4 separate regions of the Homo sapiens genome follow, and all the other regions are linked to region 1. Evidence: fine-mapped expression QTL. A gene starts in region 1. Each other region holds a variant in brackets. All regions are shown on one strand. Distances are between the middles of the regions.

Region 1 (2,692 bases):
AAGTTTAGCCCTTTACTCCGACCAGGGGCCCCGGCACTGAATGAGTGTTACAAATATAGACACGTTCACCAGTTGGGCTACTTGGCCGGACCCAAAACCCAGCTGATAAGGGCTAGAGCAGTCTCCTGATTAGTTTGGGCTACAAGTCCTACTGTGGTACCAAAGGATCTACACAGCTATGTTTGGCCGAAATAATTTCCGGAGACTTCTGTAGTCCCCCCCCCCCCCCGTTAGTAATCTGGAAAGGGAAGCGCTTAGATAAGTAATTAGTTTTCTTTATTAAGAGGACATGACTTTATTATTATGGATAGTAGAAACAGTGGTGGTTGATTAGCTTGTTTAAGGGTTGGTTATAAAGTTCATGCGTTTCGACTGGGTGCCGCGCTCCTCCGTATGTTTTATTTGATTTCCCCCTACACATGACACCCGCCGGGTCCTGGCGCTAAACGTAGTGCTGTCTCCTTAGAGGGACTGAGTCGGGATGCCAGAAACCCTGAGATTCTCTCGGTTAGGGGTCCCAAGCCCCGAGCGTCTAGAGAACTGGAAATGACCCAGTCGCGTCGGAATCTACTCCACAGGTCCGGTCATCAGGCCCAGAGACTAAGGCCACCTGGGCTCCTGCTTGGCTCGGACGCCTCGGCAGCGCGCCGTCCTCCTATTGCTTATGCCCAGCTTGCCCTCGGAGCTGCGGATCCTCGCCGGGGAGACGCCTGCCCCGGAATCAAGGGAACCTTGAGGTCTGTAGAAGAGAATGCCACCACCCCCCATCCCACCTCCTCCCAGTTCCTCTCCCTGCTCTTTCGGAATCAGCTGCGACGGAGGATAGCCAGCTGCAGACATTTCGATTCAGAAAAACGACCGTTTCTTAGCCCTGTAGGCATAGGTGGACGGGAGAAAACTCACCCGCCACCCTCAAGCGGACGTCTCTACGACCCGCCGCTCCGGTTCTCCACCGGCCAGGGAGTCGGCTTGGTTTAACAGAGGGCGCAGGGGTGCCCGGCTACCGCCGCGGCGGAGCCCTTCCTTACCGCGTCGCGGCCGTTGAGCTGGGCGCCTTTGGCCAGACGGGCCTCAGTCTTGGATCTGCGCTCCATCTCCTCCATGATGCCTTGGATGTGGCCTCCGGAGATCCCGTGAAAGAGCATGGCTGGGGGGCGGAAAGGACACGAGTTGTCTTCTGCTCGGCACCCCACTATTTCCATATACACACGCCCGGGGCTTTCAGCTCATCCGAGTGAAGGAGGCAAGGGACCAGAGAGGGCTGCCCTGTAGGAGCGCAGAGACGCTCGAGGATGGAGGGAAAGAGGGAGAGAAAGGAGGAGAAGAAACAGATGGAGTGGAAATCGGTCTGCTTGGGGGGCCGAGGGGAAGCAAAAAGAACTGGGAAGAGTTGGGGGGAAGCCTCAGCGGCTCCCTGAAGGAGATGTGCAGAAAACAAACAATTCGGGCGGAGGGAAAAAGAGGCGTAGAAGGCGAATCTTACTGCTCTGAGAGATCGAGTTACTAATGGGAAACAACTGCAGCGGGGGGAGGAAAACAAAATCTGGTGAAGAAAGAAAATAGTTTTGAACACAAAGAAAGAAAAAGACGTGCTATTTTCAGCGTTCCCTGGCTGCTTGCAAGTTCCCAGTGCCTGTAGATTGGGTTGGGGACTGCTCCTGCCTGAGCTGTGTCCAATTTGTTAAGAGACTAAAGCCAGCCCATTTTTGATAATTTAGTAGGAGGAGTTCTCTCCCCGGAGCTGCCACGGATTTTTATTCAGACAACAAAGACCTGTCATACTCCTCTCAACCCCCTGGTGATGGGCAAGCAGGACAAACATTACAAAGGGGTGGGGGGATAGAGAGCGGGGAGGCAGGAGGAGGGGGCATTTACCTCCCCACAAAACACACACACGCGCGCGCGCGCGCACACACACACACACACACACACACATCCTTCCAAGAGTTCCCAGCAGTCATGTTTTAAAGGGGAAAAGGAGCTCTTGTTGTCCCCGCCCTGTTGCAGAAGGCCTAGAACCCGCCTATTTGATCCGAGTTCAAGATCAGACCTTGGCTCAGGACACAGAGAATATCAACTTCAAACTTTGGATTTCCTCCTTGTGGACTTTTTCATCCCCAGCCTGCAGGACTGTCACCCGAAATGCATAAATATTGAGCAGAAATGTAAGCAATTTACTGAGGTGGAGATAATGCTGGTTCCTCTCCTCCCCATCCCATCTTCCTCAATCCACTTTTAAAAGCAGCTGTCTGACAATTCATCTCTTTGCCTCACCTTCTTGAGGGCCGGAGACCCTACTAGATGCTGGCTTCATCCGAAGTGGAGAGGGCGTTTGGAGCGTCTGCATTTCTCAGGGTTACTTTTGGCAAAACAATTTTCTTTGAGAAAATTAGAGTGTAGGGGACAGGGCATGGACCTGTACACACGGGTACGCAATTGCGCCTTGGCCATAGGGCGGCTTATTCTCTTCCCCGGTTCAGGTTTGAAGGAAGGTTGCCGGAGATTCTAATGTCTCATTTGAAGCTTGCCAATATAGGAAGCGACTTGCGGACTCCCGGGAGCTTGGCGCCTGCCCCCGCAGGACTGGGCGCTAGCCCCATCGCGTGCTTCTCCCACTACCCTGGCAGGACAGAGGACTTGTAAAACTGGGCGCACCCGCACACTCAGAAGGGTGTGAAAGGGACTCTTTGCC
Region 2 (2,692 bases), 49 kb before region 1:
TTAGGGAAATACAAATCAAAACCTCAATAAGATAACTTCTTCATATCCACTAGAATGGCTATAATCCAAAAGTCAGATTAGAGCAAGTGCTGCAGAGAATGTGGAGAAATTGGAATGCTTATAAATTGTTAGTGGAAATGTAAAATATTGCAGCTGCTTTGGAAAACTTTGGCATTTTCTCAAATAGTTAAAGAAAGATATGATCCAGCAATTCCACTCCTAGGTATACACCCTAGAGAAATGAAAAACAAATGTCCACACAGAAATTTGTTCACAAATGTGATAGTAGCATTATTTGTATCAGGCAAAAAGTTGAAACCACCCAATTGTGTGTTACCTGGTGAATGGCTAAACAAAATGTGGCAGAATCATACAATGTAATAATAATCAGCTATAAAAAGGAATTAAATACTGATACATGCCACAACACAGCTCAACCTTGAAAATGTATTAAGTGAAATAAGCCAGTTACAAAAGACTACATATTATATGATGCCATTTATATGAAATGTCCAGAATAGACACATTTATAGAGTCAGAAAGTAGAATAGTGGTTGCTTAGGGACTGGGAGATGGGAGTAGACAGAACAAGGTGCTGATAGCTAAAGGATACATATTGTATTTTGATGTGGTCAAAGTGTTCTAAAATTGAAGGTGGTAATGGTTGTACATATCTGTCAGTATACTACAAGCCATTAAATTGTATACTTTAAGTGAATGAACTATATGATATATTAACTATATGTCAATAAAACTTTTCAAAAATGTTCTAAGACCTTAGCTTTTTTTCTCTGAACCTCATGGATTGTCAGTCCAAGAATGCAATAAATATCACTGTTGTTCTGTTTACCATATAGGTCAGAAAAGAAAGAATGACTACTGACCCTTATCCCACACACGCACACACACAGAAGCTAAAAAAGTATCCCCACATTTGGAAGAGACAAGGACTATAGTCATAGTTAGAGGTCATCAAAGTAAAATTTTTCAAATTCCTGGGGAGGGAAGGGCACACTGGCCTGCCACTGCCTTCCCCTGGTCTGTCTCTGATCCTGCCAGTCCACCTGCTCTGATGGCATATGTTAGCAGCCACCCAGCACAAACAAGAAGCCTGTGCTTTAGCTTTCTTCCACCTGTGGAACATGAAAGGACCCTTTTTAATAAATCAGCAATGATCCTAAATTGTATCATCCAAACATAGTCTTTTCCATCTTCAAATCCTGTGCCTGGGCTCACTTGACAGAACTGTGATATCTTGTTAACAAGATATCTTATTCACCAAATGCTGCTTTGTTTGGCTCCTGAATCAATACAGTCTGCATGTTTGCAATAAATGTTTCCTTAGATCAGAGTATCCATAAATAGTTCAAAAATCAGAAAGTAGAGGATTAAAGGAAGTGCCTTTTTCTCATTGTCAGAATTTTTCCTCTAGTCTCTAAAGTCCAGTTTTTGTTATATGTTGACCCTAG[T/C]TTGCAAAACCAGGATTACTCCAATAACTATGGGAAAAATAAATTACTGGAGCTAAATTCTTAGGTAAGTTTGAAAAGAAAATCCTCTGAACATAAAAATGAGTAGTCTAAAGAAGAATTAATTAGTCTTCTTCAAGTAGTTGACATTATGAGAAATACCAGTTGTGCAGTCCAAAGAACATAGGAGGGACTTTGTATTTAGTAAGTAGACATTGAGTAAGTATTGTAATATTACTTTAAAATCACAAGTTGGCCAGAGAACAGCTAAGGATTCTCAGCTATGACAATTGCCTTTGTTTCTTCTAAAGATTGAATAGCTGTTGCAGTTAAATAGATGGTAGATACTCAATAAAAGTCTGATCAATTGAATTATCAGTTTCTAGAAGTATTTTGATTAAAAAGAAAATGTTATATTGGGGAAAAAGTTAGACCCTACAAATTAGAACTTACATTAACAACTTAGAAATTTTTAAGAGATATTTGATAATAAAATATGTCAAAAAAAAGCAACAATAACTAGACACCATTACCAAAATGCTCCTCATCTTAAATTGCCAATATTGGTTAAGAAAATCAACATTCATTCTATTGCCCAAGTTGGAAATCACAAGGTCGTCCTTGGCTCCCTGGTTCCATCTAATCAGCCACCATTTATTTCCTTTAGATTCTGCTTTAGCAATCTTCATATCCATTGTTTACTTTCTAGACTAGACCCTCATCCTTTATTCTTTCCTGTATTATTATAAACTGCTCTTCTAAATCACAGTCTTTGCTTCACTTCAACTCCCAGTCTGCATACACATCTGAGCTAATCATGTTACCATGGTGCTCAAAACTCTCCATGGATCTCCATTGCCAGCAACATCCAAATTCCAGGCACAAAAGGTTCTTCAAAATCTGGTCCCAGTCTGACTGCCTGGCCTTATTTTCCAGGCCCGCAGTAGCACCTTCTGGTTGCTCCAGCAACATCCCTCAATTCCTTCTGTAACAAGCCCTGTATTTTCTTGCCTCCAGGCCTCTTGCTGCTGCCTAATATGATATTTCTCTTTCCCATCCCCTTTCCTTTGCTTGTGTCCTACTTATACTTTAGGACTCACCTTACTCATCACTTCTCATTTCCTCTGTGTAGTGCCCTCTCATTCCCATCCCTGAGGCAGAATTAATTTCCTGCTTATCTGTATTCTCCTGGCACCATATAGCTCCTTGCTTATCACTTTGTGTTA
Region 3 (2,692 bases), 180 kb before region 1:
ACTATTACTCTATATTGAGTTCTGTAAGCATTAGCAAAGTCTACATCTTTCACAGCACTTTTGTGAAAGTTGCTCCTGTGTGGAGAATGTGAAAAGATTCTGAATTCTGTATCCAGATAGTGAAGGGAAAGGACAGATTAATTTTAGGGGTGCAGAACAAGAAACTGAGATGGCAGATAACATTCAGGTTATATTAGCTCTCTCCCACTCCCTTCAAGAGCAAGGACTATGTCTTCTTCATCAACCACATTCTCTTCAACATTTACTTCAGTGTTTAGGGGTTCATAAATATTTGTTGAATAATAATGCAGGAAACTTATATGTCATAATAACCTGTGAAACCCAAAAAAACTATATCCTAATAATTTGAAGGAAGGAATTTAAAACTGACATTGGATGAGTAACAGCAGTAAATATAATTTGCCTTTTCCTAAGTAAGCAAATCCTCATTCTCACATGATTTTATCCAAAATAGGAGCTAATACAGGGTTATAACATGCTCATCCATACTCAACAATTAACTGTTAAATTATGGGAACATAAATTAGACCTGCTAAGTAGAACCTTTAAGCCTCAACCTTTCAATTCTAATAGTATCATTTCTATGGTCAGTAAAGATTAATAATTCATCTTAAATAACTCGAATATGAAGAATTAGTTAACATTATGTTACCAGCTCTTCTGATTATGCATTCTTCTTGAGCTGCCAGTAATTTTGATTTACTGACAGAAAGCATATATTTTGTTTTCATGACATTTAGCAGGAATATGCCATTTATCAGCCTTTTGTTTTTACTAAATCTGAAAATTCATTCCAAAAGAGTTTCATAGAAACTCTTAATTACTGAAAGTGATGGTTCTGCTTCTACATAATGTTCTGAATAATAAATACTATACTTATGGGAATTAATTATTAAATCCAGCTAGGAATTATAACCTTCTTAATGCAAATAATAATAATTGCATATAATAATGTTTAACATCTGGGAAGGGTACTAAAATGAGTATCTTAATGCATGTAAAAGTAACAGATTCTATACATCATATAGATAATCACACAAATAATTCTGAGAACTTCTCTAATAGAGGTAACTGTCGGTTAAACTGAAGAGCATGAAATATCTATCACCAAGAATCGGTATGTCCCTCGTGATCTATCTTTTAAGACCCTGTATGGAAAAATCTCTTCCAAACCTAAAATTTTATATTTCTATCCAGGTGAGATGGAGAAGGCCAGGATGGGACAGGATAATATAGCAATATTGGCTTTGAAGTCAGACAATGTTGAACTTAAATTCTGGCTCCAGGTTCTCTTACCTACTAGCTGTGTGACCTTGAGTCAGATATTTATCCTT[C/T]CTGACACTCAGTTTCCTTGTTTACCTACTGGAGTATATACTACCTATTTTAGATAGGTGATTAGGAAAAGCCTCATGAAAGGTGATTTTTTTTTCAGAGTCCTGATTGATATAAAGGGTTGGATATTTAAATACTTAGATATTTCTGAGAAGTACCCAGAGCCTCAAACTCATATAGAAAATAAATATGTAATTTCTTTATACACACTGGAAAATCATAACCTGATTTGCAAGGATAATTGCAGAGAGATAGTTTTCATAACTCATAAAGAGATCACATAAACCAATGAGAAAGTGAGAAGCAATCAAATAAACAAAAATAGGACATAAGCAGTTTAGAAAAAAATACCTATGATCAATGTTATGGCTTGAATATTTGTATTCCGACAAAATTCATATGTTGAAATCCTAACCCCCAAAATGATGATATTAGGAGGTGGGGCCTTTGGGAAGTGATTAAGTCATGAGGGTGGAGCCTTCATGAATGGGATTAGTGCCTTTATAAAATAGCCCAAGGAAGCTCATTCACCTCTTCTACATCTGAGGACACAGCAAGAAGTCACCATCTGTGAACCAGGAAACAGGTCCTCATCAGACATCACATCTGCTGGCACTTTGATCATGGACTATCCTGCCTCTAGAACTGAGAAATGAACTTCTGTTGTTTATAAACATAGTCAGTCTACGGTGTTGTGTTATAGCAGCCCAAAGACTAAGACAATGAGTAAGCATAAGGAAAAAAACTCCCTTCTCTCATAATATCAGATATTAACAATTAAAAACCTAATATATATAATTTTTCACACATCAGAAATATTTTTAAAAACTGATGTCACCCAGTTCTAGAAAAAATGTGAAGTAAAGACATTCTTAGGCAGCTCTTTACAACCTCATCAACATTAAAAATGACATAATGTTTGATCCAGTAATCCCACTTCTGGCAATTTGGTCTGTGGATTTACTTTCATGATTTTTCCAGCATGTACAAGCATATTTATTGCCGAAATTATTAGTGGTAGCTAAAAAAGGTAACAACATCAAAGCTTTTATTAATAGAAGCCTGACTATAGTATATGCATATGACAATAACGTACAGGAATTAAAAATGCTAAGAGATATTTTAAAAATCATGTAAATATTTAAATAGAGACTCCCTTGAGTCTATAATTAAAGAGAATCTGACATTTTTACAATATAGAACCTTCATAATCAAAGCAAGATTTTATTCTTTACTCACTTGAAGTTTCTTTCATGTCCCCCAGTAAATTTCTTCTCTACGTCTTACATATTCTCTTTAAATAAAGTTTGTAATATTTTTATCATTTTGCTTGCTGTTT
Region 4 (2,692 bases), 25 kb before region 1:
ACACAGCTTTATGAGAGGAAGACATCCAGGGGAAAACAGAGCTGAAGGGGAGAACATGAAATCACCTCCTATTATGTACTCAACAGATGCATGAGTATGTTTGAAACATCCCTAGGGACTTTAACATGTTTCCAGTAGGGGGTCTAAGAGAACCGTGGAAGTTGGGTGTCTGAAGTTATATGATGCCCTCTGGTACCCCAAGATAGACCAGGCCTGGAAAGATGCAGAGATATGTATGTTATTATTCAGAAATTATTTTACCCTAAAAAAACTCATGAAACACTTTAATAGCTTTTGCTGAACTCCAAGCACTGCCTTCTATTGTACACCCTAGTTTTTGCCACTTTCTAAAAGTCTCCTGACAGCTGTCTGGGCAAGTTCTCTGAGAATGAGACACCTTTGTGTAACTGCCATTACTCCATCATGTTTCAATTCCTGCTTTTCAGAGCTGCTCTACCCTTACTAATTTGAGGAAAAATGTTCCTGTCCCACAGGTTAGGGAAAAACTCAAGGAATTGAATGGAATCATCAAAACGTTAGTGCTGAAAGTAAAGAGCATCTGATCCAATGTTTTCCCAAAGTTGACTGATCACTTGGGGTATATTTATGAAGAAAAAGAAAATGATTTCAGGAGTCTTATATCGGGGAGAGTGAGGGCCAGAAACCCCCCACCCCCCGGCTTTTTTTTTAGCAAGCCCTCGAGATAAACCTTCAGATCAAGTAAGTTTTGGAAGCTGAGTTAGGGCGGCCTCTCCAATGCCAACACTGTTCAAATGATTCACTTGAGGTTACAGCTTTATTTTGTCATGTTTACATTTTCCCCATATAATTGACTGCCACAAGAGTATCACTTTTGTTCCTTTATATATCAAAGTCTTTGACAGGATTTTATGTTTGGATCTAAAATTGTGGTTTCCAAAGTGTTCACTTAGAAGTTTCCAGACTCCATGGCAAGGCTTAAGGTGTTGGAGACAGAATGGTGGAACCACGGCTTTTATTTTTTTTTTTCCAGTGCTCTCTTCTCTCCACCAGAATAGCTTTACTCTTATCTGATTTATAAATTCAGTTTTATGGAAAAGTTCAATGAGCAATGTTTGTTACTTAAAAGAAGAATTTGAGAATAAGCGATATAAAATATTTTCATCTGCAAGCCTGATCAATTTTAGAAGTTCACCTGCCTCAAAAGGAAAAAGTGTTCCAGAGCCTCTTATTTCAAAGTTCATTCAATGTTCATTAATCTCCCTGCTAGTAACATCTATGTACACTTATCTAAAGGCCATATGTATTTTATTAATGTAGAGATAGCCAATTATTGGTCATTGTGCACTTCAAATAGTTCATACTTAATAAGGACTTAGCATCAATTTGGTAGAGGAGTTTAATACCTATTTTCT[A/C]ATGTAAAAAATACAAAATCTACAACCAACCTTGAAAAATAATAAACACCAGTGAGCTGTAGGCTCCTGGGGAGAAAACAGCATACACCTCCTTCTTTTACAAAGCAATTCTCAACCAGGATGATGCAGCCATGGAAGCATGGCAAACCCTTCCCAGCTATGCTGTGAACACCTCAAAGATTTGATGCCGCCTGGGCCCAGTGGCTCACGCCTGTAATCCCAGCACTTTGGGAGGCCAAAGCAGGCAGATAATTTGAGGTCAGGAATTCAAGACCAGCCTGGTCACCTGGCCAACATGGTGAGAAACCCCGTCTCTACTAAATATACAAAAATTAGCCAGGCATGGTGGTGGGTGCCTATAATCCCAGCTACTTGGGAGGCTGAGGCAGGAGAATCACTTGAATCCAGGAGGCAGAAGTTGCAGTGAGCAGAGATTGCACCACTACCCAACAGAGCGAGACTCTATCTCAAAAAAAAAAAAAAAAAAAAAAAAAAAAAAAAAAAAAAAAAAAAAGGATTTGATGCCATGCTTTAACTAACGTGCAGAATTTATTTCTGCTCTGAGTTTATATATTGATAAGGTAATGCTGTTGGTTTCAGGTCATGTTTAGCCAGATATGCTTGATACCAGCAACAGAAGAAAATGTAGTTTAACACTAATCTGGCACCAAAGAAATATTTATGCTTATTGAAATGTGAGATTTTGCCTTATGAATACATAAGAAAGTCTGCTCAGAGCAATACACATTCTTACTCAAACCAAGACTCAGAACTGAAGGATAGACAAGTGAACAGTACAATTAAATGCCTTTGTCATTAATGAAAGGCGTTATGATTCAGTAGTAGTGATTTTGCGGTCATCATTAGTGACTTGTTCAATGCTCCTTTGAGTCTCTTAATTCCTTTCAAGTGTGCCTCCTGAAACTCTATGGTGGTAACTGTTCTTACAAAATGGAAAGAACTACTACAGTAACATAACTAAAATATTCAGGGCAAAAAGATTTTATCCTTCCCAATCAAAGCACCAGGACTGGTCCCTGGAATGCTCTCCCTATGAGAAATTCATAATGATGCTGGGTGTTGCTTGCTACAGAATAGGATGAAAATAGTTAGCACTCTGACTTCCATTCTCGAGAGGATAACCCCACATAGCACTTACTGGTCTCAGAGAAGGAAAGTAAGACTTGAACAAGTCCTGCTGGGTCCACGTCATTGCCTTTCCCTTGACTTACATTATGAAGAATGGTAAGTGCCAGCAGTAGCTCTTCATAATGAAAGCTTCTCTTTCCCCAGAATTC

What was found. PIP is the estimated chance that this variant, and not a neighbour inherited with it, causes the effect.
Region 2: its variant is the best candidate, but not a certain one, in a credible set for the expression of LHX9 in liver (GTEx, PIP 0.75).
Region 3: its variant is the best candidate, but not a certain one, in a credible set for the expression of LHX9 in lung (TOPMed, PIP 0.51).
Region 4: its variant is the best candidate, but not a certain one, in a credible set for the expression of LHX9 in lung (TOPMed, PIP 0.60).

Annotation. Positions count from the first base shown.
Region 1 is chr1:197,916,334-197,919,025 of GRCh38, reverse strand. It overlaps LHX9 (LIM homeobox 9), which reads right to left and starts at 1,654. Exons shown (of 5, transcript NM_020204.3): 1 at 1,029-1,654. The coding sequence starts at 1,202. RefSeq lists an enhancer at 357-1,083.
Region 2 is chr1:197,965,563-197,968,254 of GRCh38, reverse strand. No RefSeq gene overlaps it. Among named protein-coding and RNA genes, the nearest start is that of LHX9, 50 kb to the right of the region's middle. The variant T/C (reference allele first, on the strand shown) is at 1,470.
Region 3 is chr1:198,093,047-198,095,738 of GRCh38, reverse strand. No RefSeq gene overlaps it. Among named protein-coding and RNA genes, the nearest start is that of NEK7, 63 kb to the left of the region's middle. The variant C/T (reference allele first, on the strand shown) is at 1,356.
Region 4 is chr1:197,941,773-197,944,464 of GRCh38, reverse strand. No RefSeq gene overlaps it. Among named protein-coding and RNA genes, the nearest start is that of LHX9, 26 kb to the right of the region's middle. The variant A/C (reference allele first, on the strand shown) is at 1,395.